Homo sapiens: one gene and its partners. The protein of the gene in region 5 purifies or fractionates together with the protein of the main gene of each other region. This does not show direct contact. Each region holds a gene or a part of one and is shown on either strand. Other genes may lie near its edges. The genes, in order: TAGLN, TIMM44, ZC3H11A, MAGOH, SARNP, CHORDC1 and ACIN1.

Evidence for each region.
Region 1: the proteins of SARNP (region 5) and TAGLN purify together in Homo sapiens (co-immunoprecipitation; 2 studies listed by BioGRID and IntAct, with this or other methods). This does not show direct contact.
Region 2: the proteins of SARNP (region 5) and TIMM44 fractionate together in Homo sapiens (co-fractionation; one large-scale study listed by BioGRID). This does not show direct contact.
Region 3: the proteins of SARNP (region 5) and ZC3H11A purify together in Homo sapiens (affinity purification with mass spectrometry; 4 studies listed by BioGRID and IntAct, with this or other methods). This does not show direct contact.
Region 4: the proteins of SARNP (region 5) and MAGOH purify together in Homo sapiens (affinity purification with mass spectrometry; 2 studies listed by BioGRID and IntAct, with this or other methods). This does not show direct contact.
Region 6: the proteins of SARNP (region 5) and CHORDC1 purify together in Homo sapiens (affinity purification with mass spectrometry, with the first as the bait; one large-scale study listed by BioGRID). This does not show direct contact.
Region 7: the proteins of SARNP (region 5) and ACIN1 purify together in Homo sapiens (affinity purification with mass spectrometry; 2 studies listed by BioGRID and IntAct, with this or other methods). This does not show direct contact.

The regions. Positions count from the first base shown.
Region 1 is NC_000011.10:117,197,842-117,202,336, reverse strand, and holds the start of TAGLN (transgelin), read right to left. Parts: upstream 2,968-4,495; 5' UTR 2,905-2,967; exon of another isoform or gene 2,508-2,904; intron 2,487-2,507; exon of another isoform or gene 2,425-2,486; intron 577-2,424; exon of another isoform or gene 423-576; intron 1-422. UniProt on the Homo sapiens protein: Actin cross-linking/gelling protein. Involved in calcium interactions and contractile properties of the cell that may contribute to replicative senescence.
Region 2 is NC_000019.10:7,940,647-7,945,217, forward strand, and holds the start of TIMM44 (mitochondrial import inner membrane translocase subunit TIM44), read right to left. Parts: upstream 3,021-4,571; 5' UTR 3,006-3,020; coding exon 2,961-3,005; intron 552-2,960; coding exon 456-551; intron 1-455. UniProt on the Homo sapiens protein: Essential component of the PAM complex, a complex required for the translocation of transit peptide-containing proteins from the inner membrane into the mitochondrial matrix in an ATP-dependent manner.
Region 3 is NC_000001.11:203,830,103-203,833,937, reverse strand, and holds part of ZC3H11A (zinc finger CCCH domain-containing protein 11A), read right to left. Parts: intron 3,816-3,835; coding exon 3,735-3,815; intron 2,278-3,734; coding exon 2,167-2,277; intron 148-2,166; coding exon 85-147; intron 1-84. UniProt on the Homo sapiens protein: Through its association with TREX complex components, may participate in the export and post-transcriptional coordination of selected mRNA transcripts, including those required to maintain the metabolic processes in embryonic cells.
Region 4 is NC_000001.11:53,228,273-53,232,107, forward strand, and holds part of MAGOH (protein mago nashi homolog), read right to left. Parts: intron 683-3,835; coding exon 600-682; intron 1-599. UniProt on the Homo sapiens protein: Required for pre-mRNA splicing as component of the spliceosome. Plays a redundant role with MAGOHB as core component of the exon junction complex (EJC) and in the nonsense-mediated decay (NMD) pathway.
Region 5 is NC_000012.12:55,807,482-55,811,316, forward strand, and holds part of SARNP (SAP domain-containing ribonucleoprotein), read right to left. Parts: intron 1-3,835. UniProt on the Homo sapiens protein: Binds both single-stranded and double-stranded DNA with higher affinity for the single-stranded form. Specifically binds to scaffold/matrix attachment region DNA. Also binds single-stranded RNA. Enhances RNA unwinding activity of DDX39A.
Region 6 is NC_000011.10:90,202,990-90,206,384, forward strand, and holds part of CHORDC1 (cysteine and histidine-rich domain-containing protein 1), read right to left. Parts: intron 3,284-3,395; coding exon 3,213-3,283; exon of another isoform or gene 3,212-3,212; intron 2,577-3,211; coding exon 2,471-2,576; intron 439-2,470; coding exon 319-438; intron 1-318. UniProt on the Homo sapiens protein: Regulates centrosome duplication, probably by inhibiting the kinase activity of ROCK2. Proposed to act as co-chaperone for HSP90. May play a role in the regulation of NOD1 via a HSP90 chaperone complex. In vitro, has intrinsic chaperone activity.
Region 7 is NC_000014.9:23,088,545-23,092,379, forward strand, and holds part of ACIN1 (apoptotic chromatin condensation inducer in the nucleus), read right to left. Parts: intron 2,090-3,835; coding exon 1,978-2,089; intron 1,558-1,977; coding exon 1,438-1,557; intron 1-1,437.

The DNA of each region.
Region 1 (4,495 bases), on a different chromosome or scaffold from region 5:
AAGAGACTAAAACTCGCCCACCCCAGGCAAGGGCGACGAAGCCACCAAAGCCCAAGAGTTCTTGGCAAAGAAGCTGCATTTCCTCAGAGAAATCAGAGACACCTGGTCTACCCATCGACTTCCCCTCATGCCCTTACGCTCTCGTAAGGCTACCCTTACGGAGTAGCCTGAGTAACCAAGAAGTCAGAGTCCCCCAGGGATCTTCCAGAGCCAAGAGTCTGCCTGCCAGGGAATGGGAAGCCTGGCCCCATCCAGCAACTGCCACCCTGAGGGCCTGGGCCTGGCACTGCTCAGGAGTCCCACTCATGGAGAGGGGTGGCAGCAGGAGTGGGCCAGGCAGGTAGGTCCCTGGGCAGACAGACAGGGGTGGCTGGGAACAGGAACAGGAAACTGACCTGTCCACTGATGTCACCCTAGGGTGCTGTGCCTTCTCTCCAGTGTTTGTCTGAAGAGACTTCCAAAAGAGGTACCAAAGGAAGCCGAACCCATCCCCTGGCCTCAGAGGGGTCAGAGGTTGGGAGGGACACGCTGGTCTGAGGATGGACGCAGGAGCGCACTCCCCCGGCTCCCTCTCTGGTGAGACCCCTCCCCACTGGCACCCCACCCGCGGGAAGCAGAGCCAACACTATCACACCCCACTGGTCCCAGGCCAGCTGCCCAGCCCGATGCCCTGCCCTTCCTTTCTCAGGGCTGACAGGCTTTCTGGGCTGGAGTTCCTCATCTGTGAAGTGGGGGTTATGTTACCAACCTCAGAGGGCTGTGAAAATGGGACGGTGTCTGTGAACTCCCTCACATACTGCCTGGCCCTTAGCAGAGCTCCTCGAAATGTCAGTTCTTTGCTGCCCGGAGCCAGGCTCCTGGTAATGACCAGGGAGAGAGCCTGCCCTTGACCAAGGAGTGAAAAACTGACCTCAAAATGTCAGTTCTTTGCTGCCCACTCCAGCCTCCACCCGCTTCTCACAATCATTCCCTGAGCGCGCAGCAGCTCACACGGAACAGAGTTCACACGGACTCATCGAAGTGCCCGTCATTGGGCATCCCTCTCCTCCTTGCGTCTGTTTCCTTATGTGTAAAGTGGGGGCAGGACCACTTCTGAGGACCCAGTTCTCTGAGCACTGGGGATGAGGTGGGCTCCTGGCCCAGCCACCCCTCTCCCTGCCAGTGATGCCAGAGACCCCAAAGGCAGAGTGCTCTGTTCTGCTGTTCAGCTACAAACAGCCAATCCCTCCCTTCACCCTGTGTGTCCCACCCCCGCTCCCCAACCACCCAAGGACTCCTGCACAAAGAACTGTGGTCCAAACCCCCAAGTCAGCTGGGACCAGGTGATTTTGGTAGCCCTGCATCCTGGCTTCCATCCACCCCAGCCTCTGTCTCAGCCTTTGCACCACCATCCCAGACAGGCATCCACCTTCTGTCTCTGGCCCTGCTTCTACCCCCACTCCACCTGCCCTCATGTCTGCCTTCCCCTTCTGCACCCCTGCTGGGCTCCTGAGGAACAGGATGGAAGGAGAGTGTGTCCCCTACCCCCAGCTTCCAGTCTCAGGAGGGTCAGAACAGACAATACAGGTCAAAGCAGCAAGGCTAAGGGTGACAGGTACACAACGCTGCAGCCCCCAGATCTAGAGACAAGATTAGGATTTCGGTCAGAGGGGGATGAAGCACACACCATCCCCACTCCCACCCAGCACCACCATCCTTCCCCTTCCTCCTCCTGGGTCAGGGTCGAAAAGTGGAGAATCCCCAGAAATCCTTTAGAGTCCTCTGATGAAGCCTCCCGAGTCCTGCCTTCGAGCCAGTGGGGAGGGGGAGAGGAGGATGATTACAGGGCGGCCCCCCCAGGGGCATCTCAAGACACTCCCAGGACAGCATGGACAGGCATGGACCCTCCTGCCCTGTGGCTCCTGCCAGGACCCCTCCCCTGAGCTGCCCAGTGGGTGAAAGTGGGCAGTGGAGAAAGAAAGTCCAGGGTCAAACGGGAAGGTGGCACCCCCTACCAGCAGAAGCCCAGAAACACGAGCAGAGCCAGGGGCCCCTGCAGGGCTGCTGTGCCCCTTCTCTCTTCCCAAATAGGAGTGAGCACACCTGGACCTCTGAGAGGGCAGGAGGGTGGCTCCTCTCCACTCCACGGACAAACAGGAGTGGCCTGGCTACATAAATGTGTGCCATCCTCACTGCTACCTTTGGAATAGCAACTTCGAAAGGGAACCACCCTTTGGGAAAGACCAAGGGTCCCAGGCCTGCCCCGCCTATCACTCCAAAGCTCCTCCTTGGCAGTACCCGCCCCCCACCCCTCTGCTACAGTGGGGGTGACCTCCCACTGTCAGACAGTGGAAGGGGCTGCTTGTCAGAAGGACAGGCCTTCCGTCTCCACTCTTTGCCCCTGACTGGAATACAAGAGTTCTGTGGCCCTTCACATTGTCACAGGGCTATCGCTGCTGCTCAGGCCCTGGGGACCCGCCAGAGTGGGACACCGTGCTCCAACACAGGTGCGTTCACACACTCCTCACCTCCTTGGAAGTTCTCCTGGAGGGGCAACAGACAGTAGAGCCTTGGCCTAACCGGCCGGCGCCTGCACCCTTACACACACCTTGTGGATGTGGCTGGCTGAGATGGGGAGCCTCCCTCTCACCCCGGTGGTTTCCATCAATTCCTCTGCACTAGCCAAGTCATCCGGGGCATTTCAATGAGCCCGGGGCTGCCCAGTCTGAGAGAGATCCAGGACGCTAGTGATCCAGCCCACCCTGCCTGGAGCTTGGGCCCCCATGCTGACTGAGAGGGTGGGTTTCCCTAGCCAGGGAGCTGGAGCTGGCGCCTGGGACCTCAGGAGAGCCTGCCTGAAATGCACCCACTGCTCCTGTCCAGCTCCAGCCCAACTTCCCTCCAAGCCCCAGCCAATGCACTCACAAGGCTTCCTCAGGGCTCGCAGGAAGGAGTGAAGACTTGTGTCTGGGTTCGGACAGACAGGATGGGGCGCTGGCTGGGTGAGGGGTTTAAAGGGCTGCCGCCGTGGTGATGTCAGCCTCCCCCACTGGCTCGCTCCTCGGCCCCCTCCCTGCTAGAGGAAGCCGGCTCCGCTCCCCACCCCCGGCTCCCCCAGTGACTCCACACAGGCTCCATATTTGGGGAAAGACACCAAGTTGGAGCAGTCTACCGGGGCTGCCGAGACATTCTCTGCATGCTTTGGAGATGGAGCGGGCCGGGGCGGGGCACGCTGCCGGCGGGGAGCCGGCCCGGGAAAAGCCTTTTATGGACAGGACCCTGCCCGGACTTACGGCTGCTCCTACTTCACTGTTCTCTGGCCCCGAGTTTGAGAAGAGGGGGAGTTCAATAGAGTCTGGCTGGAGAGAGGGGCAAGGGGCTGGGGAGCCGGGAATCCCAGGGGTTTGTGGGGACAAACCAGCCACCCTCTCCTCCTGGGGCTTTTAGCTCTGATGGGACATGGGATCCAACCTTTCCTGAGGACCTACTCCACACCAGGCCCTTTGCAGTGCTCTCATTGAATACTCACAGCTACAGTGTGAGGGTGTAATTACATCCCCATTTTATAGATGAGGAAACTGAGGCCCCGAGTGCGTCTTCCTCAAGGCCACATGGTGAATGGTAAGTGGCAGATCCTGCACACCTCTGCCAACCCGCATGGGTGCAGGAGAGGTGGTCAGACCCACCCTTTCAATTGGACCACCCTGCTCAGGTTGAGAAGAGCTTTCAGTGCAGGTAGGTCTTGAGTTATATGCTTTAGTTGGGGCTGGGATTTGAGGGTTCGGCAGAAGCTGAGTCCAACTCCGGTCCCCATCCAGTGGGCAGTGTCAATAAGAGGGTCTATAAGGCCTGGCAGGGCCTGAGACACTAACGCAGGAGAAGGAGGCTCAGGAGGCTGGTATCATCCCTTCCTCCCTTTAGGAACAGTCCCTACCAGCCTGGAAAACAGACCAGCCTCTGTCACTCCAGAGATAACCCACTCTCATCTTGCTCGTACCTGGCTTCAGGGATCTTGGGGAGAGATAAGAGGTTAAAAAAGGTGAGACTAACAGTGGGATCCCTGGACTGACTGCTGTGGCACTCCCCTGCAAGGGCATCTGGTAGGGAAGACCTAACACTCTCCACTACACACACACTGCCACACCCGGCACCACCCCTAGCCAAACAAGGCCCTAGGAGGGGGCTGCCAGGCCTGGCAGAGGAGGGGCCCGCCTCCGCAGTTCTGCCCACTGCAACTGGACATGCTCCAGAGCCCAGGGGAGGCACAGCCATAGCACCTCCCAGTGGCGCCTGCAGGAAAAGCAGGAAGAGGAGTGGGCCCTGGCGAGGGGAAAGCCCACTCCTCCATCCCTGACCCTGCAGACCTCTGGTTGTGTTCTGAATTCAACAGATTCCTTGGCCCCCAAATCATGTCCTCCTTAGCCGACTGAAGTCTAAATGAATCTTTCAGGGACATATCAAAACTCCCTCCTCTTGGAGCCTGCCCAGCTTTCATCACCCTCCTGCCTCGGCCTGC
Region 2 (4,571 bases), on a different chromosome or scaffold from region 5:
GATGCTGAGACACCAACAGAAGCACAGTTGAAGAGGAATGACCAGGAGAAACTGAGGTCTGGTTGTGACAAGGTGACTCTGTACCAATGATCAAAGGGCTATCTTCTAGAAAAGGAAACAGCTATGCTTGGTGAGGTACCCACGGGCAGAGGTCACAGGGAAGTAGAATTCAGTTCAATACAGGGGTCTCTTCCAAGCATTAGAGCCAACATAAAGGGCTATTCTGACAGCACCTTATCCCCTTACGACATCAAGCAAGAGGCAGGTCAAGTGTTTCTGGGACCGAGAAGGCCAGGCACACTGGGATCTGTCATTCTGAAAGCCCCGGACACAGAAGGCCCACCACCGAGATGGTACGAGCCACCTCTACAGCCCCACCCCTCCCTCCTGCCAATGGGATCTGAATTTTCGGGCCTCCCCTGTGTCTGCTGGCCCGAGCATCCTGAGTCACTCACCAGTGGCAGCTCTCCGCCCGGCCGGCGCATCTGATAGGTCGACCCATGGGGTAGGTTGTGGCTGGAAAGAAATTGGATTCCACTGCCGAGGCATCTCTAATTGGGGGGAGAGAAGAGAAAGATCCATTCTAACAAGAGGTTGACTGAGAAGTAAGCAGACCACACACAAAACAGCAGGGTCACCTGCAACTCACTGGCCATTTTTTTTTTTTTTTTGAGACGGAGTCTCAGGCTAGAGTGCAGTGCTGCGATCTCAGCTCCCTGCAACCTATGCCTCCTGGGTTCAAGCGATTCTCCTGCCTCAGTCTCCCGAGTAGCTGGAATTACAGGTATGCGCCATCACATCCGGCTAATATTTGTATTTTTAGGAGAGAAGCGGTTTTGCCATGTTGGCCAGGCTGGTCTCGAACTCCTGACCTCAGGTGATCCACCCCTCCCCCGGTTTTCCAAAGTGCTGGGATTACAGGCATGAGCCACTGCACCTGGCCTCACTGGCCAATTTGTATCTTATGCCTGATGCATGCCGGGCACTCTGTAATCTTCCCAAAGTCTGAGAAGCAAGCAGAAGCTGGTGGAAAGAGAAAATGCTGTGTCTGTACCTCCAGGGCCTACATCTATCCTCGTGCCCCTGAAACTGGGGGAAAACGGACAGGTCCCAGGAAATGCCAACCCATGGGGGGAAGAAGGCTAAATGTACAATTTAATCCCTTAGTCTGAAAGTAGGCACTCTAAGCTTCTATGCTAGTGGCAAGCAGTCTTCTCTTGCGAGCCCACCCCATTTCTGCCAGCCTCCAAAGATGAGAGAACTGGATTTTTCAGACACAAACATCGATAATGTGTTGCCCCAGGGACAACTCTGGAATAAACCTACAATGTCCTCCTCAAGGGTTGAGCTATAAACAGAGTAATTTAGGGGAGTCGCTCTGGGCAAAGACTGGGCTGATCTCATGTAAAAGGCACTTGCTGGCTGGGCGCGGTGGCTCACGCCAGTAATCCCAACACGTTGGGAGGCTGAGGTGGGAGGATCACCCGGTCAGGAGTTCGAGATCAGCCTGGCCAACATGGTGAAATCCCGTCTCTACCAAAAATACAAAAATTAGCCGGGCGTGGTGGCACACACCTGTAGTCCCACACACCTGTAGTATTGCTTAAACCCGGGAGGTGGAGGGTGCAGTGAGCCGAGATCTTGCCTTAAGTTCTGTGCAGGCACTGAGCTGGTGGCTCATGCCTGTAATCCCGATACTTTGGGAGGCTGAGGCGGAAGGATCGTTTGAGCTCAGGAGTTTGAGACCAGCCTGGGCAACATAGCTAGACCCTGCCTCCATAAAAAATTGGGGGAAAAAAAAAAAGCTCTGTGCAGGTCCTGTTCAGCTCGGCACCCTGTCACCCAGCACAGAACCTGGCGTGTTGATGTCAAAAGACCAGGTACAACTTCTCCACCATTTCCACATTTCCTGGGCCGTTTTTCTCTCTGTTCTCTGCCTCCTACCTCTGAGAACCCTATGCAACATCCCAAACTTACACAGGTGCCTACTATCTCCTGTATTTACTTGAGGATAACTTTTTTTTTTTTTTTTGAGACGGAGTCTCCCTCTGTTGCCCAGGCTGGAGTAAAGTGGCAGGATCTCGGCTCACTGCAATCTCCGCCTGCCGGGTTCAAGTGATTCTCCTGCCTCAGCCTCCCAAGTAGTTGGGATTACAGGAGCGCGCCACCATGCCCGGCTAATTTTTTTGTATTTTTAGTACAGATGGGGTTTTAGTAGAGATGGGATTTCACCATGTGGGCCAGTGGATCTCGAACTCCTGACCTCAGGTGATCCACCTGAGGCTGAGGCAGGAGAATCGCTTGAACCCGGAGGCAGAAGGAGGCAGAAGTTGCAGTGAGCCGAGATCGCGCCATTGCACTCCAGACTGGGCGACAAGAGCGAAACTCTGTCTCAAAAAAAAAAAAAAAAGAGAAAAAAGAAAAAACGAAGAGCACGAGCAATATGAAGTACTACTTTCTGAGTGCGCCTTACACGTCTTGACTGCCACTGCCCTGTGGACCCAAGAGCCTGCTAGGGCGCGAACCACCTCTCGCACATCCACAATGAACGTTAGAAGAAACGAGACAAGAAATGCTCTCGGTAGAGAACTTGGCATTTAACCGCGAGCTGTGAATTTCACGTTTTTTTGCCTTCCCCTCTACTTTTTTCCACGGGACGCCGCCGCCCCGGCTACCATTCTCTCTCCTGTATACGTGGAGTCTGATCAGAGGGCGAAGGGTGATCAGCTCCCTCCCAGGTCCCGCGCATCGCCGCCCCCTGCCCGGTAAGCTCGGTCCCCGCCCTCAGGCCACGCTCTGTGCCCCCTGTCCTGGCCTCTGCTACCCAAAGATCTAACCCCAAGCTTTCTAAGGAGCCCAAGCAAGGGTCGCGAAGGCCAAGGGTCTGAGAAGAAAGCCTTGGTGGCCGAAGGCCCAGAAGACCCCTAAGCTCGCCCTGCCAGCGCCGCACCGCCGCTCACCCGTGGACAGCGGCACCAGCCACTCCGCAGGGCCGCCGCCGCCATGTTGGAGAATCGTGTGACCTTCTCGCGGCGCGGCCCGGTTGCGTCATCCGCCGCTTCGGCCTAGAGCCGCGCAAGCCTGAGAAAAGCCGCTCCAGGAGCGGGGTTTCGGGTAGGGAGAGCCCTCCGATTGGGTCCGTCATAGGGCGGGGCATTAAAAGGGTAGGGAATGCCTAGAGAGCTTGACCTCTGATAGGGCAGTGTTTTGGAAGGACGGGGCCCGTGACTGGATGTGGCCCGGGGGAGGGCACTCCTGGGAGGGTCAGATCTGTGATTGGGCGCGACTACGAGGGGGCGGAGCCCAGGGGCGTGTATTCCGTCACTTGCGGTGATTCGGCTACAGAACGCGCCGGGCGCTGGTGGCAGGTGGTACAGGCACGTGGATCCACCGACCACAAGGACGGATTCGATTGGATTCTGATTGACCGGCGGACCAGCTCCAGAGTAATTGTCTATGGCTGCCCCTGCAATGACTGATTGATTGACAATGGCTGAGAGACCAGCAAGTGAGTCGCTCCGAGAAAGCGAAGGAGCCCACTCTTGTGCGGCGCTTTGGGAAGACGCCTGTTGGTTTTGACCCCGAATAAGAAGAGGAAGCTGAGAGCGGGCTGACTGTGGTCCAGTCCTACTTCGATTCAGTGTGAACTGACACTCTGATCTGAAGACGCTCAGGCCTTTGTCATTTCAGCACCCCAGATGCTATTTTCCATTCGAAGAATGCCGCCACCAGGTGGCGGTATTTTAACATGGCCATGCAATCCGGGTATGAGGAGGAGGGTTGGTCCCCTGGGAGAGCTAATGTATGTTGCTGTTGCTGTTTGTCTTATTGGATCCTTTTTTTTTTTTATAGAGCCAGAGGCTTGCTCTGTCACCCAGGCTAGAGTGCAGTGTCGTAATCTAGCTCACTGCAGCCTCCAATTCCCAAGCTCAAGCGATCCTCCTGCCTCAGCCTCTGAGTCACTGGGATTACAGGCGTGAGCTACCGCACCCGGTCTTTTTGCATTACTAACCTGTGATATGGGTTTATGGGACTTCATTATTTCAAAGGGAGGCAGCTTGGCCCCGGAGAGCATGCATTCCTGGCTTCTGCGATGGATAGACTTGTGTTCTCCATCTCAGGAGCTCCCCCTCAAGGTGGGGGTAAGAGATGAGGGCTTCCACTCTGGCTTTGTTCGAGATGTCTTGATGCCAAGAGGAGCAAACTAGTTAAGCGGTTGGTGTACACAGGTGTGTTGCTAAGAATAAGGTCTGGGCTAGAAATATGGATTCTTAGTTGTGGTTGAAAGTACGGAGTTTGGCCGGGCGCGGTGGCTCATGCCTATAATCCCAGCACTTTGGGACACTGAGGCGGGAGGATCTCTCCAGCCCAAGAGTTTGAGACCAGCCTGGGCAACATAGTGAAGACCTCTTCTTTACAACAAATACAAAACATTAGCTTGGCGTGGTAGCATGTGCTTGTAGTCCCAGCTACTCAGGAGGCTGAGATGGGAGGATCGTTGAGGCCCGGGAAGTTAAGGCTGTAGTGAGCCGTGATCGTGCCACTACACTACACTACACTACACTACACTA
Region 3 (3,835 bases), on a different chromosome or scaffold from region 5:
TCTGTATAAAAAGAGTTTGGAGAAGCTATCATGTTAATGCACAAACAAGTAGAAAAGAAAAGATATACACAAAACTTATCTTACCTGCTGAAAATTTTCGTTTCCCCAGTCTCTCAGTAAGACTCAATCTAACCAAGGGTTCTTCTCCTGAAATGGCAAAAGCAGAATTTCTCTATCCTTAGTCAATTTTTCTGTATTCAGTAACTACTAATGGGTACAAAGTATGTTCTGATATTAGTGTAAATCCACCCAGAAAGTCTCTTGAAAATCAGGTCTCAGTCTTAAGGAAGGCCATTATATCAAAAAAAAAAAAAAAAAACCCAAACCTATTAATAATAAACAGCCAAACATACAGCCTAAACAGAAGCAATAGCATAGTACTAATTATTATTATTATTTTGATAATAATAATAGACTCTTGCTCTGTCACTCAGGCTGGAGTGCAGTGGTGCCATCTTGGCTCATTGCAACTTCCACCTCCTGGGTTCAAGCAATTCTCCTGTCTCAGCCTCCCAAGTAGCTGGGACTACTGCGCACACTACCACACCTGGTGTTTTTTTTTTTTTTTTTTTTGAGACAGAGTCTCACTCTGTCGCCCAGGCTAGAGTGCAGTGGCCCGATCTCGGCTCACTGCAACCTCCACCTCCCGGGTTCAAGCGATTCTCCTGCCTCAGCCTGAGTAGCTGGGATTACAGGCGTGCACCACCATGCCCAGCTAAATTTTGTATTTTTAGTAGAGACAAGGTTTCACCGCGTTGGTCGGGCTGGTCTCGAATTTCTGACCTTGTGATCTGCCCGCCTCGGCCTCCCAAAGTGCCGGGATTACAGGCGTGAGCCACCACACCCAGCCTAATTTTTGTATTTTTAGTAGAGACAGGGTTTCACCATGTTGGCCAGGCTGGTCTTGAACTCCTGGCCTCAAGCGATCCGCCCGCCTCAGCCTCCCAAAGTGCTGGGATTATACATGTAAGCCACTGCGCACAGCCTAGAATAGTACTAATTATTAATAGCAGTCGAGTATAAGACAGATTGTATTCTTAACCAATTGGTTATAAAGCTGAAACTATCCTTTTGCTTATGCACTTTGATATGTTGAATGAAACTGTACTCTACTCCGATGTTAACTGTCCAATATAACTATCTCTGATCACCTCAGGAAGAAGTGAGCTCTCTTTCTTCTAATTCTTTGTTGTTTGAATTGCACAAACATTTAAATATATCTATATCTATAATTCCTTATTAGGCTTAAAATTATTAAGTGAAAATACTTCGTTACAGGCCGGGTGTGGTGGCTAACACCTATAATCCCAGCAATTTGGGAGGCTGAGGCAGGCAGATGATTTGAGGCCAGCAGTTCAAGACCAGTGTGGCCAACATGGTGAAACCCCGTTTCTACCAAAAATACAAAAATTAGCCAGGCGTGGTGGCGGGTGCCTATAATCCCAGCTACTGGGGAGGCTGAAGCAGGAGAATCACTTGAACCTGGGAGGCGGAGGTTGCAGTGAGTGGAGATCGCACCATTGCACTTTAGCCTGGGCGACAGAGCAAGACTCCATCTAAAAAAAAAAAAAATTAATGGCCAAGAACGGTGGCTCACACCTGTAATCCCAGCACTTCGGGAGGCCAAGGCGGGCGGATCACCTGAGGTCGGGAGTTTGAGACCAGCCAGACCAACATGGAGAAACCCCGTCTCTACTAAAAATACAAAAAAATCAGCCGGGCTTGGTGGCACATGCCTATAATCCCAACTACTTGGGAGGCCGAGACACGAAAATTGCTTGAACCCAGAAGACGGAGGCTGCGGTGAGCTGAGATCATGCCATTGCACTCCAGCCTAGGCAACAGGAGTGCAACTCTGTCTCAAAGAAATAAATAAAAAACTTTATTATATATACCTATTATTCTTTAGTCACATGGGAAGCCAATAAATGTATTGAGTGGATATAAACAGTAAATGGAAAAATATATGTGAGGGCTGCTTGACAAAGAATTTCAACCTTTTAAATATTAGAGTTGAATGTACCAACTTTTCATCTTTAGATTATCTCATCAGCATACTAACAAATTCCTGAAAATTCATCAAAGGTAAAAGATACCCAAGGATTTTGCATTCCCAATTATATAAAAGTAGAGGCTTGACAACTCTAAGACCTATCTATACCTTACCTTGTTTGGTGGAGAGAGTTACTGTCCTCACCACAGTCCTGACATTTTCTTTTTCAGGACCTGGAACGGGCTCAGGGTGGAGTAAAAGACTGGAAACTCCTGAAGAACCCTCTGAATAAGGCAAGTCAAAGAACAGCAAATAATTTATGGAAAATAATGCTATCCCAAGTCAAAAAATTTGTTTTTGTAACCAGTTAAGTCCAATACAGACTGATATTATGACTATAAGCCAATCAGCCTTTCTGTATCTGTTTGCCTACAGTCAAATGGAGTAGTGGTGAGGGGAGCCTTGGGCATGATGTGAAAACAAAATATAAAATTATTTTGAGTGACTTAGGCACCCAAACTACTTTTATTTACCAATAAGGCTAATATTTACCAATAAAGCTAGTATTATTCTAAAATTAACCTCAGAGGTACACTAGCCATCAGGTGTATCAATCCAACCTATTCTATTTAATCATCTGAAAACACAACTCCAAGGTTGCTATAAAGCAAGCCTTAAAAGAAGGTTTTTAGAACCATTTCTCTCTATATATACTACACTTCACACTATAAATTTTAAGGCTGGGGGCTGGGCGCAGTGGATTACCTGAGGTTGGGAGTTCGAGACCAGCCCAACCAACATGGAGAAACCCTGTCTTTACCAAAAATACAAAATTACCCAGGCGTGGTGGCGCATGCCTGTAATCCCAGCTACTCAGGAGGCTGAGGCAGCAGAATAGCTTGAACTGGGAGGTGGAGGTTGTGGTGAGCAAAGATTGCGCCATTGCACTCCAGCCTGGCAACAAAAGCAAAACTCTGTCTCAAAAAAAAAAAAAAAAAAAAAAAAAAAAAAAAAAAAAATTGGGGGTTGGAAATACAGAGCAATCAGGCTGACGTAAGCTCCAGAAGAAAATCCTAGCAGCTCTTGAGGAAGAACTCTTCTACTAGAAAATGACGTTTTTCCTTTTTTTTCTTTTTTGAGACAGAGTCTTGATCTGTCGCCAGGCTGGAATACAATGGTGCGATCTCAGCTCACTGCAACCTCTGCCTCCTGGGTTCAAGCAATTCTCATGCCTCAGCCTCCCGAGTAGCTGGGACTACAGGTGCATGCCACCCCGCCTGGCTAATTTTTTGTTTTAGTAGAGACGGGGTTTCACCATGTTGGCCAGGATGGTCTGGATCTCCCAACCTCATGATTCGCCCTCCTCGGCCTCCCAAAGTGCTGGGATTACAGGCGTGAGCCACCACGCCCAGCCTTTCCTCTCTTAATATAATTTCTTTTTAACCACTATAAGAACTTACAGAATTAATATAGTTCTTATATGATGTTCTTCAGAGCTATATTTTTCAAGATATACAAGTTCTTTCAGATTCTTTATTGTACCCAGCTCTGAAAAGTTAGGGACTGAAACACAGCTGCAGTGAATTAAAAGCAACCACAATTTAAATAAGTCTGTGTTTTACTTCAAACAGGCCATGGAAATGAAAATCTATTTGCTCATTTTGGCTGTTGCTTCTAGAAGCGTCCTTAGTATTCTTCCCTAGCAACATACAACTATCCATGCCAAAACGTGATGACTTACCACCTTGCTTCTTAGATTTTTCCTTCATTTTCTTTGACTTAATTTCCTCAAGAGTTTTTATTCCAAAATTCAAACATTCACCTGAAAATTCAAATAGAAAT
Region 4 (3,835 bases), on a different chromosome or scaffold from region 5:
TACAAAAAAATTAGCCGGGTGTGGTGGCAGGTGCCTGTAGTCCCAGCTACTCAGGAGGCTGAGGCAGGAGAATCACTTGAACTCAGGAGGCAGAGGTTGCAGTGAGCTGAGATTGCGCCACTGCACTCCAGTCCGGGTGACAGTGGGAGACTCCATCTCAAAATAATAATAATAATAAATTTATAATAAAATAAAACTTAGATCCTAAAAAATGTCAAGTTTCACTGAAGTCAGATTTTAAGATGTGCCAGTCTCAACAGTCACACTGAGAAAGCTATTCAGACTCGGTGACTCTACAGTTTATCATGAGCACTTTTTTGGCATATTCCATTTTTTCTTCTGGCTGCTCCTATGCATTAATCTATATGTGTGTGTCAACAAGAAGCTCGCAGTAGCAATGGCTGAATGAAACACCAAAAGTAATAGGAGCAAGTCCTCAAAAATAATTTGGGGTTCCTCCCTAACAAGAAGGACAAAGCTGCCCACCTGCATTTTGCATTTGCCCCAGCTCTTCCCATAATGGTCCCAATTTGGTTAAGGTTTCTTATCAATCTGCTCCAAAACAGACACAACTGGATATAAGGATCATGCACACTTACTTGGATTGATTGACATCAATAAGGGAACCAATTTTTGATGTTGTAAAAGAAATGTGTTCATCTCCAATGACGATTTCAAGCTCCTAGAAACATTTTAGAAAATCGAAGTCAAGTAGAATTGGATTATTCATCAAGCACACAGAAGGATTAATCATTTGCCAAATCACACAAACTTGACTACAGATGGCCACAAAAACAAGGGCAGTTCACTCTGAGCACTAAACTGTGCTGGGCACTAGAAACAAGAGATAAATACAGCTCATATTTAGAAGAAGTTGTACCCTTAAGGCCCTACCATTTCTCAGATTTGGAAAAATCTATGTAGGTTTTTTTTTTTTTTTTCCTGAGACAGAGTCTCACTCTGTTGCCCAGGCTGGAGTGCACTGGCATGATCTCGGCTCACTGCAACCTCCGCCTCCCAGGTTCAAGCGATTCTCCTGCCTCAGCTTCCTGAGTGGCTGGGACTACAGGTGCCCGCCACCACGCCCGGCTAATTTTTTTTGTATTTTTAGTAGAGACGGGGTTTCACCGTGTTAGCCAGGATGGATTTTTTTGTATTTTTAATAGAGACAGGGTTTCGCCATGTTGGCCAGGCTGGTCTCGAACTCCTGACCTCAGGTGATCCGCCTGCCTCAGCCTCTCAAGTGCTGGGATTATAGGTATAAGCCACTGCGCCCAGCCTATGTAGTATTTTGTATGAGTTTTCATTGTCAACAATGTGGAGTAACATGAATACACCTATGTTTTAAAAATACCAAACAATTGGACTGGGTGTGGTGACTCATACCTGTAATCCCAGCAGTTTGGGAGGCCAATGCAGGAGAATCACTTGAGCCCAGGAGTTTAAGACCTGTCTGGGCAACTTGGCTAAACCTCATCTGTACAAAAAATACGAAAACTAGCTGGGTGTGGTGGTGTGCATCCGTGGTCCCAGCTACTAGAGAGGCTGAGGTGGGAGGATTCCTTCACCCCAGGAGGTCAAGGCTGCAGTGAGCCATGATCTCATCACTGTACTCCAGCTTGGGCAACAGAGTGAGACCCTGTCTCCAACAACAACAAACAAAAACAAAAACCAAAGAATCTAATCTATCTAGGCAACTTCCAGACCTTAGGTTTGATCCCCACTTTGTCACTCCCTACATGTATGATGTTGGATCTCAATTTCCAAACAGTGACATGAGTACCATAACCTTCAAAAAGTATCTATGTGTAGCCTACTGGGTGCTGGCTATTGTTCTCAGTGCTTTGGACAGATAAGTAAAACCAAGCAAACCAAAGATCTCTGCCCTGTGGAATTCATATTCTTGTGAGGCCTATTTACTTTTTCTTCTTTTTGATTCATATATCCTTTTTGTTATAATTCAATCAGAAAATCGAAAAAACTGAGATGTTTCCAATACTCAGATTTATAAATTATTGCCATACTTGTGTCAGATTTTTTTTAAAAAAGAAGTAAAATATTACAAAGTTTATGTCCATCTCCCATTCTGTTCTCCCTCCTGTATCCCGATTTGTTCCACTCTTGTTTCAGATTTGGTAGTATGTTTTTACTTATTTCTTTTTAGATACAGGATCTCACTCTGTCACTGAAGCTGAAGTATAGTAGTAGGATCATAGCTCACTGTAACCCTGAGCTCCTGGGCTCATGCTATACTGCACCTTTAGCTTCTCGAATAGCTAGGACTACAGGTATGCGCCACCACGCCCAGTTAATTTTTAGGGTTTTTTTTTTTTTCTTTGTAGAAAAAAAGGTCTCACTGTGCTCAGGCTGGTCTTGAGCTCCTGGCCTCAAGTCATCCTCCCACCTTGGCCTCCCAATTAAGAACAAAAGTGCTGGGAATGCAGGCATGAGTCACTGCACCTGGCCTAGACGTGGTAGTGTGCTTTAAAATTTTTACAAAATGGTCTTATTATACATACTTTTTACATTTTTCATTCCACATTGTTTTCGAGATTTATCAATGTTGAGTTACACAGATCTAGCTCATTAGTTTTAAATGCTTGTGGTATTCCATTTCCCTACTGAAATAAACTTAAGTTTTAAATTTTTATTCCTATAAACAATGTAGCAAGAATATTCTTCTATACATCTCCTTGTACATGTGAATATGTCTCCATATAATTCCTAGTATTTTAAATGCTGCCAGATGCCACAAAATTACTCCCTAACGCGGTTATACTAATTTTATTCTCACTCTTTTCTCATATCATTTTTTAAATTCGGCAGATTTTTTTCTGTTTTTATTCTAATGGGTCTGAAATGGTATCTCACTGTTGTCCTTTCATTTTACAAATGAAGCCGTAAATCTTTTCATATTAGCCACTTGTTTGATCTTGTAAGTTATCTATTCATAACCTTTGCACATTCTGCCACGGGACAGTCTTTTTATTAATTTGTAATTCTTTATATATTCTGGATGGAGAACTCTTGCCAGTTTTATGTTTTGCAGATAACTTCTTCCAGTCTATGGCTTATCTTTCAACTTTATCTTGCCATCTTTTGTCAAACCTAAGTTGTAAAGAAGTCAAATTTACCAATCTTACCCCTTAAGGAGTTTTAAAAACTCCTTCTCTACCCAGAAATAATACAAGTCTATATTCTGTTTAAAATTTTTGATTTCTATGGCCTAATTTTAAAAATATTCCATAAATACATTGTCAGCTGTCCTGGTACAATTTGTTAAATAATTCGTTCTTTTCCCATTAATGTGAAAGTCCACCTCTGTAGCACACTTTTCTAAGTTTCCATATATTCATAGGTTGGTTTCTGGGCTCTCTATTCTGTTCCATTGGTTTAGCTGTCAATTCCCGAGGCAATATCATACTACAAATGACCACAGCTTTGTAAGAAATTTCCAGTATTATTTTGGCTACTCTTGCCTCTGATTTTCCATGAATTTAATGCTCATTCTATTTGATTCTAAAGGGAAAAAAATCCTACTGCGATTTTTATTTGAATTAAGAGTGAATTTATAAATTACTTTGTTGAAAACTGACATCTTTATGATACTGAATCTTGCCATCCACAAAAACGATACATATTTTTGTCCTTCTATAAAGCCCTTTCAAGTTTTGTACATCTTGTTAAATGCATTCCCAAGTTCTTTATAACTCTTCTTGCAATTATTAATGGAATTGATTTTAATTACAGTATCCAATGGCTTATTGCTGGTACAAAGGAATATGCCCTTCCCTCTTTACAGAATTGTTGTGATGGTAGAACGAGTTAATAGAAA
Region 5 (3,835 bases):
AAACACCATGAGATGCCATCTCTATTAAAAAAAATTTTTGGTCGGGCGTGGTGGCTCACTCCTGTAATCCCAGCACTTTGAGAGGCCGAGGCAGGCGGATCATGAGGTCAGGAGATAGAGACCATCCTGGCTAGCACGGTGAAACCCCGTCTCTACTAAAAATACAAAAAAAAAAAAAAAAAATTAGCCGGGCGCGGTGGCGGGCGCCTGTAGTCCCAGCTCCTCAGGAGGCTGAGGCAGGAGAACGGCGTGAACCCGGGAGGCGGAGCTTGCAGTGAGCCGAGATCGTGCCACTGTACTTCCACCGGGGTGACAGAGCGAGACTTTGTCTCAAAAAAAAAAAAAAAAAAATTTTTTTTAAGAATCTTGATCTTTCTCACACTGATACATTATTTTCTTCCCACTTCCTGGAGAACAAGTCTTTTGATCTTAATTACACTTTAAATTTTTTGTTTGTTATAAAAGTATTATGTTCACTGTAGAATAGTTAGAAAATTCTGAAAAGTTTAGAGGAAAATAAAAGTCGTATGTAATCCCAGCACTTACAGATCACTTAACATTTACATATATCATTTGTAGTGAGGCGTGAGCCACTGTGCCCAGCCTACACACAGCTTTTACATAGTTGTATTACTTCTTTTGTTATATAGTGAGTTCTTCTCATATACTAGGACGTTATTTTAAAAGGAAAATAGACATTATTTTAAAAGGAAAATAGAGGCTGGGCATGGTGGCTCATGCCTGTAGTCCCTGCAAGTTGGAAGGCTGAGGCAGGAGGACAGCTTTGAGCCCCGGAGTTCAAGAACAGCCTGGGCAACAGAGTGAGACCCTGTTCCTACAATTTTTTTTTTTTTGAGATGGAGTTTCACTCTTGCTGCCCAGGCTGGAGTGCAATGGCGTGATCTTGGCTCACCGCAACCTCCACCTCCCGAGTTCAAGCAATTCTGCCTCAGCCTCCCGAGTAGCTGGGATTACACACACGCGCCACCATGCCTGGCTAATTTAGTGTTTTCCCATGTTGGTCAGGCTAGTCTCGAACTCTCGACCTCAGGTGATCCACCCGCCTCGGCCTCCCAAAGTGCTGGGATTACAGACATGAGCCACCACGCCCAGCCAAATTTTTTTTTTAATTAGTCACACAAGGTAGCACACGCCTGTGGTCCCAGCTACTAGGGAAGCTGAGGTGGGAGGAACGCTTGAACCTGGGAGGTCAAGGCTGCTATGAACTGTGATCACACCACTGTACTCCAGCCTGGGCAACACAGCAATACCTGGCCTCAAAAGAATGAATGAATGAGAAACAGATGAATAAAAACATAAAACAGCTGAAAATGATGTAATTTCTTTTTGCACGTATTTCAGCACAATTACATTAGCAGAACTAAAACCTTTTAAAACTTAAAATAGGAACTAACATAAAATCTTATCCCATTTTTCTAAATTGATTTGATTTGATTTGAAATGTTTTGGCTCCAACACTTTGGGAGGCTAGAGGTGGGCAGATCACTTGAGTCCAGGAGTTCGAGACCAGCCTGGACAATATGTTGAAATCCCATCTCTACTAAAAATACAAAAACAGCCAGGCATGGTGGCATGTGCCTGTAGTCCCAGCTACTTGAGGGGCTAAAGCTGGAGGATGGCCTGAGTCCAGGAAGTCGAGGCTGCAGTGAGCCGAGATCATGCCACTGCACTCCAGCCTGGGTAACAAAGGGAGACCCTATCTCAAAACAAACAAAAAATATTTTAACAAGTATACTGAATGAATTGTATGGTACGTGAATTGTATCTCAGTAAGGCTATTGAAAAAAAAAAATTAGCCGAGCATAGTCGCATGTGCCTACAGTCCCAGCTACTCAGGTGGCTGAGATGGAAAGATCACTTGGGTCTGGGAGGCTGAGGCTGCAATGAGCCATGATCATGCCACTGCACTCCAGCCTGGGCAACACAGTAAGACCCTGTCCCAAGAAGAAAATAAACAAAAAAAACCAGCTAGGTAGGCACAGTGATTCACATCTGTCATCCTAGTACTTTGGGAGGTCGACGCAGGAGGATCACTTGAGCCTAGGAGTTCAAGACCAGCCTGGGCAACACAGTGAGACCCTGTCTCTCAAAAAACAAAAAACTAGCCAGGCACACTTGTAGTCCTAGCTACTCGGGAGGCTAAGGCAGGGGCATCACTTGAGTCCAGGAGGTTGAGGCTGCAGTAAGCCATGATCACACCACTGCACTCCAGCCTGGGCGACAGAAGGGAGACCCTGTCTCAAAAAACAAAAAAAAAAAAGAAAAGAGTTATAGAACATTCTATAAGGATACTAACATTAATGTAAAAAATAATACACACACATCTCTGTATAATGTGTATAAACAAGATGCCTGGAGAAGAAACAGGTAAGTTAACACTGGTTGAATCTGAGAAGAGGAAGCTAGTTTGGGAAAAGTGTAGGAAAGAAACTTTTTACCATATACTCTTTTGTGAACTTGTGCATGATTACCTATTCAAAAAGTTTTTTAAATCTTATTTTTCAGTATCAATAAAGCATTCTCCATTCTACCTATCCAACCCACAGAGAAAAGACATATCAACTTACCCTCATCATACATTTGACATTAATCATGCATTGCCCTGTGATTTCTATTTATTTTTATTTTGACTCAGGGTTTTGCTCTGTTGCCCAGACTGGAATGCAGCAGTGCAATCGCAGCTCACTGCAGCCTCGACCTCCTGGGTTCAAATGATCCTCCTGCCTCAGCCTCCTGTATAGCTGGGACCACAGGTGTGTGCCACCACAGCCAGCTAATTTTTTTATTTCCAGTAGAGATGAGGTCTCACTATGTTGCCCAGGCTGTTCTTAAACTCCTGGGCTCAAGTGATCCTCCTGCCTCAGCCTCCCAAAGTGTTGGTTAGGATTATAGGCGTGAGCCACTGTGCCCAGCTTGCCCTGTGATTTCTTCTAGTTAACTGACCTTGAATTTTTTTTTTTTTTTTTTGAGACTCAGTTTCACTCTTGTCACTCAGGCTGGAGTACAGTGGCACAATCTCGGCTCACTGCAACCTCCGTCTCTCCAGTTCAAGCGATTCTCCTGCTTCAGCCTCTCCAGTAGCTGGAATTACAGGCGTGCACCACCATGCCCAGCTAATTTTGTATTTTTTAGAAGAGATGGGATTTCACCATGTTGGTCAGGCTGGTCTTGAACTCCTGACCTCAGGTGATCTTCCCGCCTCGGCCTCTCAAAGGGCTGGGATTACAGGCATGAGCTACCACACCCGGCCAAATTTTGATTAAAATATTTTATCAGAAATCTTTTTCACGTTGGCCAGGCGCGGTGGCTCACGCCTGTAATCCCAACACTTTGGGAGTCCGAGGCGGGCGGATCACCTGAGGTCAGGAGTTCAAGACCAGCCTGGCCAACATGGTGAAACTCTGTCTCTACTAAAAATACAAAAATTAGCCAGACGTGGTGGCAGGCACCTGTAATCCCAGCTACTCGGGAGGCTGAGGCAGGAGAAGGGCTTGAGCCCGGGAGGCAGAGGTTGCAGTGAGCCAAGCCAAGACCACGCCACTGCACTCCAGCCTGGGTGACAGAGCGAGACTCCATCCCAAAAAAAAAAAAAGAAATCATCTTTTTCATGTTATGTCAACATATAGTTTGTAAATTCTTTGAAGGCAGAGATGTTTTAGACCACCTATAACATATATGATGGGAACTCAAAATCCTTACAAGGAACCTAAGTGGTTGGTATTACAATTAGGCTTAAAGAAATTCAATAACTTGCTTAAATATCACACAGCTTGGCCAGGTGTGGTGGCTCATGCCTGTAATCCCAGCACTTTGG
Region 6 (3,395 bases), on a different chromosome or scaffold from region 5:
CCAATACTGTATTGTTTCATATGAGAAAAGCCACTGACAAAAAAGAATAACTGGCTTCAAGTTTCATATTGAGAACTAAGTACTATATTACTTGATAAATCTACTACAGTATCTCCAGAATGGTTCAGCAGTAAGTCTACTATACAGAAATTTTCATTTAAAATAGTTTCATAGAAGTAATTTAATTTTTTTTAATGGGAGTCATTATAAAATCTTACCCCCAAATCAGCTGAGATATAAACAATACTTTAAAATACAGTAACATAAAGAATGATGTATAGAAAAGAACTTTTACCCAAAATTATAAGATGTACTTACCAATGTGCTATTTGCTTCTACTCGGCTAAGTTCTGGAAGTGAGTTTTTAGCATATACTGAAATGGTAACTTCACCTCCAGTCTGATGCCAGTCATGTCTACATGGAACAACTTTTTTCCCCTGTAATGTAAGAGAAACTCTGTAAGTTAAAAAAGTGCCACATAATTAATTTCTTAAAAAGAGGAATTTGACCCATCTGAGAAAAAACTACCATGCACAACAACTAAGCACTTAATGTTTAAGGGCAAAAAACTTCTATATTTCCCAAGAGGCTTAAACAAGAAAATATATCATGGTACAAAGATTCTTCATAAATTTTATGATTTCAGAACACACTTACTCCTTCCCTTTGTTTTTTTCTTTCAGGGCCATAATATTGATACACAGCTAAAAAGACAATTTAAGAACTCCTACTAAATTTAATCCAATTTAACATTCTGTAACCTACTAAGTACTGTCATCAAAACATTCTTTGAAGACTGAAATGAAAGACATTTGTTTACTGGGATAAATCAGACAACACCTTAACCTCATGCACTAGAAACCTTATTTATTTTCTACAAATCAGAATCTAAGAAAAAAATCTGACCAGTTATTACTTTCTTCCCATTTTAATAAAGAACAAATGATTTTTGGATTTTCTGATTATGAAAATAATCCTTACATACCAGTAGTATACTATACTGCCCTACCAGTATTTTTTTTTATAGAGGCAAATGATGATTTGTTATATAAATGAGAACAATTTAGTTACATAATTCAGGAAACTGAGACACTACTGTTGTAAAAGGTACTATTTTCGTTTTGATAAAATTACATTAACTAAATTTAAATTATATATATCACTCACATTTTTCCCCTTAGCTACTAGCTTAGATACTTAATACTTGATAACTGCATACATTAAAAAACAAGAGAAATTACATCATTTTATCTAGGATTATACTCCCAAACTTAACATAATGGAAAACAACATTTTATTTTTTCAAACTAAAATTTTCAAACTTTTGGACTATAAAAAATACACTCTTTTTATTTAAAAACATTTCTGATAGTTTTGTGGTAGATGAATTTTTATAACTTCAGGGTATTTTTATAATATCCAACCATGTGTTATTAAAAAGCAACTAGGGCCAGGCGCGGTGGCTCACGCCTATAATCCCAGCACTTTTGGAGGTCGAGGCGGGTGGATCACGAGGTCAGGAGTCCAAGACCAGCCTAGCCAAGATGGTGAAAACCTGTCTCTATTAAATATACAAAAAAATTAGCTGGGCGTGGTGGTACGCACCTGTAGTCCCAGCTACTAGGGAGGCTGAGGCAGGATAACTGCTTGAACCCGGGAGGCGGAGGTTGCAGTGAGCCTGCACTGCACGTCTGGGCGACAGAGCGAGACTCTGTCTCAAGAAAAAAAAAAGTGGGGGAGGGGCAGCAACTACAGAAGACTAAAATATTGAAATCTCTAAATTAATTTGAAAATTTAATACATTATAAAATACATTAACAATAGCTAACAGACAAAAACTTATTGAGCAATAAGTTGCTCATCCTCTCACAATTTAATGGGGTTTTGGGAAATTATTTGCATAGCCCCCAAGTCTTTTTAAAAAGCTGTCCAGGGAAGTAGGAAATGATGCTTTTTTCCCCCCTTTTGATAAATATCCCATTAGCAAGCAGAGGCATTCAAAACAATTCCACTGAAACAAGACTGCAATCCTCCTCTCTGGCCACTAGATGGAGTGTTTGTGCATCTGTAAATGATTGAAGTTTTAAGTGGCCAAAAGAATAACAGAGGTCTAAACGTTTAACGTCATCAAATTCATAGAAAAGTAATTTTTAAAAAACAAAAAGTAGGAAGAGGCCATGGAGCTAATTTTATTAATTAAAGAAGACAAAAATTCTTCAATTTTGTCAGGCTTAAGTATTTCACAAAACCTCACATGCTTGCATCAAAACAGACAATGGCTATTTTGCTCAAAAGGCAGTACACTGGCAGCTTGACTCAGATTCATTTTATTTCGTAGTCACATCAAAGCTCTATGGTGCAAAAAAGAAAACTTTTTTTTAAAATCTAAAGACAGAATAATTTCAAATCTTTAAAAAATGACTCAGATGAATATAAACCCAGTGTGCTATTTTTGGAAGAGTTACTTACAGCATCTTTTTTAGTCCACATGTGTTTCCCTTTTGTACAGCCCTCTTGGGCTAAGAATGTATTAAAATCAGAAGTTTTTCTTCTACAACAGCTCCAGTATTTCATCCTTTAAATTATCACAGAAAAACTTCAGAAATAAAATCTCACAACCAATTAAATCCACAAGTATTTTAGGGATAAATCTGATTTTTAATAAGCCAGTAAGTGTACAAACTCTAGCATTTTACAAGTGTCTAAGTTACTAAAAATGAATGTACAGTATATCAGGAAGAATGTGGAAACAGAGTGGAAGATTTTTACACAGTGCTGCATTTCTATAAACTAGAGCATAATACAGAAGAGAGGCTCTCAACTGCAGGATGCGGAAAAGTATGGGTCGTCTTGGGATAATGTTGTCTTAGTGCCCCAGGGCCCAAAATTCTAAATGCCCTGCAATGTGTAGGACAGTCCTTCAAACAAAACATTTAGCCCAAATAGCATCACTTTTAAATACAGAATATGAAGAAAAACAGGCAGTTTATATCACAATGACCACTTAAGAACTGTAACCTTGTTTCTGTTTTCTCATGTATAAACACACAACATACAAACCCCTGTGTTTGTGTAGGCTATTGTGAAGATGTTAATGGCAATGTAAGTAAAATGCCTAATAACACTGCATGGCAAACAATGTTTAAAGACAGAAAGGTTTAACTTTCTAAATTCTACCATAAACTATTTTAATAAGTCATGCATAAGTTACCCCTCATGGAAAATAGGTACTCCAGAATGATATACACAGACTTCTTCTAGACTCTCTAGACCCTGGTATGTCTAAAAAGGAAACAAAGAGAAAAAAAATTAGCTGCGTATCTTACAGTTACATCTCATACATATTTGCAGTATTGGTGACCTCTACGAACTTTGCAAAATACTTAAATGACAA
Region 7 (3,835 bases), on a different chromosome or scaffold from region 5:
TTAACTAAAATCAAGTGTAGTCCATGAAGGAATTCTGTATTAATCAGAAGAGCTGGAAACCTCCATACATCCTAAAAACACTGATTATGGTGGATTCCGCATCCCCCTCAACACTAATTATTCAAAATACTTGTTAAGTTACACATTGGTTTAACATATGTACTAACAATCCACATGTCTTATATACATATTAAGTATCCCTTTTCCAAAATGCTTGGGATCACAAGTGTTTTAGATTTTGGATTTTTGAATATTTGCATTATACTTTCTGATTCAGCATCCCTAATCTGAAAACCCAAAATCTGAAATGCTCTGATGAGCATTTCCTTTGAGTGTCATGTGAATACTCAAAAAGTTTTGGGTCTTTGGATTAGGCATGCTCAACCTGCACATATTTTCCTCAAAGTATACTGACTTAGACAGGTAGTTCCCAAAAGACAAAGGCTATATTTATAGACTTTTGCTTGAGATATTATGCAAAATTGGGTGCCTATTATGATTTTATGTATTTTTTGAGACACAGTCTCGCTCTATTGTCCAGGCTGAAGTGCAATGGTGCAATCTTGGCTCACTGCAACCTCTGCCTCCCGGGTTCAAGCGATTCTCCTGCCTTAGCCTCCCGAGTCACTGGGATTACAGGTGCCTGCCACCATACCCAGCTAATTTTTATATTTTTAGTAGAGACAGGGTTTTGCCATGGCTTTTTCACGGTTTTTCCAGGCTGGTCTGGAACTCCTGACCTCAGGTGATCCTCCTGCCTCAGCCTCCCAAAGTGCTGGGATTAGAGGCGTGAGCGACCACACCCAGTCTGGGTGCTTAATATTTTCTATAATGTGAAGAAATTAATTAATCTTGCCTGAACCAATCCCATATACTAGGTTAGAGCTCCCTACTATAATATGCTCACATAATACTCTGCGTTGCCTTGCACAGTAGCCAAAACAACTGTAACTAATGTCCATGTCCTCACTAGACTAAGTTTCTTGGGGCTGAGACTTGTTTCTTTCTTTACTATATTCCTCGTGCCTAGCATGTGCCTGGTATACAACAAGTACACAATAAAAATTTGTTGATTAAACCACAGCAGATACCCAACTCCAGAGGGTGACTGAATGTGTTAACACGTAATATACACAACTGGTGAAGAGATGAAAAAGAGCTGACTGTTGCCAAATTCAGAGGTAGAAGAGTTGAAGAGGTACAGATGAGAAGAAAAATCACACTGCTTCGTAAAACACTGAGAAGGTAACACAATATATAGGTGAAAGCAGACTTCAAAAAGGGTATACTTTCCATGAGAAACAGATGTCAAATATCAATGTCACAGAATTTCCCTGGGACTTTCATGGAGGCTTAGCATGAAAGGAGGTGTAACTACCTCCCCCCACCAACTACGCAGGATTGACAAAACAGCGCAGTGGGGAGGGAGATACGTACTGGGCGAATGTCTGCTGAGCTCCAGCTCTGGTCTCTCCAGGCTGCTCTGAAAGTCAGGAGGCAGCAGGGAAGCCACTCCCTCAGGATGGATCATCTCGTCCTCCGACTCAGCTGAAGCTTCTGCAAAGTACAGATCGGGTCGGGGCAGGGAGGGAGTGAAGGACTCAGCATGTAGGAATATGTAGAGGAGTGAAGGAGGTCAGGCAAAGTCACAGATACAGAGATACATACCAAAAAGAGCACCGTATAAAAAGAAAAAACTCCCTGGGATTCAGCTCTACTTCATCTAAATGGTAGCTTAATTTACTTATAACTCTTCCTGTTGGCAGGAATCCTCTTCTAACAAGACAGTCAAATTAAGTGTCCTCTTCCCTGACAAAAGTAAATAGTAAACCACTTGGCTTCATGGGCTATGAAAGCAAGTAAGTAGCAGTCTCAGCCTCACTTATTTCTGAAATTGTCTAGTTAGACAGGCCTATCTACTTGGTGACAGGGATAAGAATGACGAACTCCTTGTTAAAAGTGACAATCTGGGCTTACCTTCAAGTTCTGCAGCTTCTCGAGCTTCACGTTCCAGACGCTGCCTAAGTAGCTCCTGCTGCTTTTCCAGATACTGTTTTATGAAACTGTTCTGGCTCATTTCCTCACCAATCTGTGTAGAGGAAATGAAAACAGAGGGTCTAGGAAAACAAACCAGGAGAATGCAAAGAAGAACATTCCATGGAGCAAAGGTCCACTCCTTATAGTTGCGCCCAAGAAAGATAACTAAAATGTTGGAAGGCTTTTTTCTAAGTTAGTTCTATATTGAAGAACAGAATAGCCTTGAGTCACACACAAAAAAAGGGCAAAAAGAAGAGCTGCACATAAGTTTTTGATTTAAATATTCAGTTCCCAAAGAGTGATACTGGTATACAAATTACTATTCTTTATTTTTATTTTTTGAGACAGAGTTTCACTCTGTTGCCCAGGCTGGAGTGCAGTGGCGTGATCTTCCCTCACTGCAACCTCTGCCTCCTGGCTTCAAATGATTCTCCTGCCTCAGCCTCCTGAGTAGCTGGGATTACAGGTGTGCACCACCACACTCGGCTGATTTTTGTATTTTTAGTAGAGACGGGGTTTCACTATGTTGGTCAGACGGGTCTCAAACTCCTGACCTCAAGTGATCCACCCGCCTCAGCCTCCCAAAGTGCTGGGATTACAAGTGTGAGCCACCGTGCCCAGCCACAAATAACCTTAAATTAAAATTCCTGTAATTATATCTTTTAGGCTAAATTCCTAGATTACGTGGAACATTATCTAAAGGGTAATCTAAAATTTCCTTTTGGTAGTATCAAGACTGAAACATGGGGGCTCACGTCTGTAATCCCAGTACTTTGGGAGGCTGAAGTGGGAAGACTGCTTGAGCTCAGGAGTTCAAGATCAGTCTCAGCAACATGGCAAAACCCGTCTCTACCAAAAATACAAAAAGGTGGGCATATTGTGGTGTGAGTCTGTCATCCTGGCTACTCAGGAGGTGGTGGGTGCAGTGAACTGAGATCGTGCCACTGCACTCCAGCCTGGGTTAAAGAGCAAGACTCCATCTCAAGAAAAAAAAAAAAAAAAGCCAGTTCCTCCAAAAGATCAACCGTTACCTATCCAGGAAACATTTTTTTTTTTTTTTTTGAGACGGACTATCACTGTCATCCAGGCTGGAGAGCAATGGCGCGATCTTGGCTTGCTGCAACCTCCGCCTCCTGGGTTCAAGACATTCTCCTGCCTCAGTCTCCTGAGTAGCTGGGATTACAGACATGTGCCACCACAACCAGCTCATTTTTGCATTTTTAGTATAGACGGGGTTTTGCCATGTTGGCCAGGCTGGTCTCAAACTCCTGACCTCAGGTGATCTACCCGCCTTGGCCTCCCAAAGTGCTAGCATTACAGGCGTGAGCCACAATGCCCGGCCTCATATCCAGGAAACATTTTATCAAACAACTCCAAAATTCAAGTATAGTATTTAAAAGTATGAAATCAAGAGACTAAGAAAAGGGATATCCATTCAGCATTTAGACAAAGTTATAACTCCATTTTGTCTGGGTGAAAGGAAATCCTTGGTAACAGGAGCTTATGCCTTTTCCTATTTTTTTTTTTTTGTAATACAGATTCCCAAGTTGCCCTTCTGACCTCCAGCTTTCTCTTCACAAGTTCTCCTCCCTAGAACCTTCTTGCTTAGCAAGTCCTATTTAGAACTGAAAAAGCAAAAAAACCTGAATACTTTCTATGTTATTAGTCATGTTTCCTAAACATAGTAAAGGTTTATTTTCACCTAAAGTAGAAATGAGTCTCTTGGCACTCAATGGACATTGTTGAAGGGTGGGTTGCATGTGTATTACAGAATAGGCATGTTTGCTGCACAAACCCG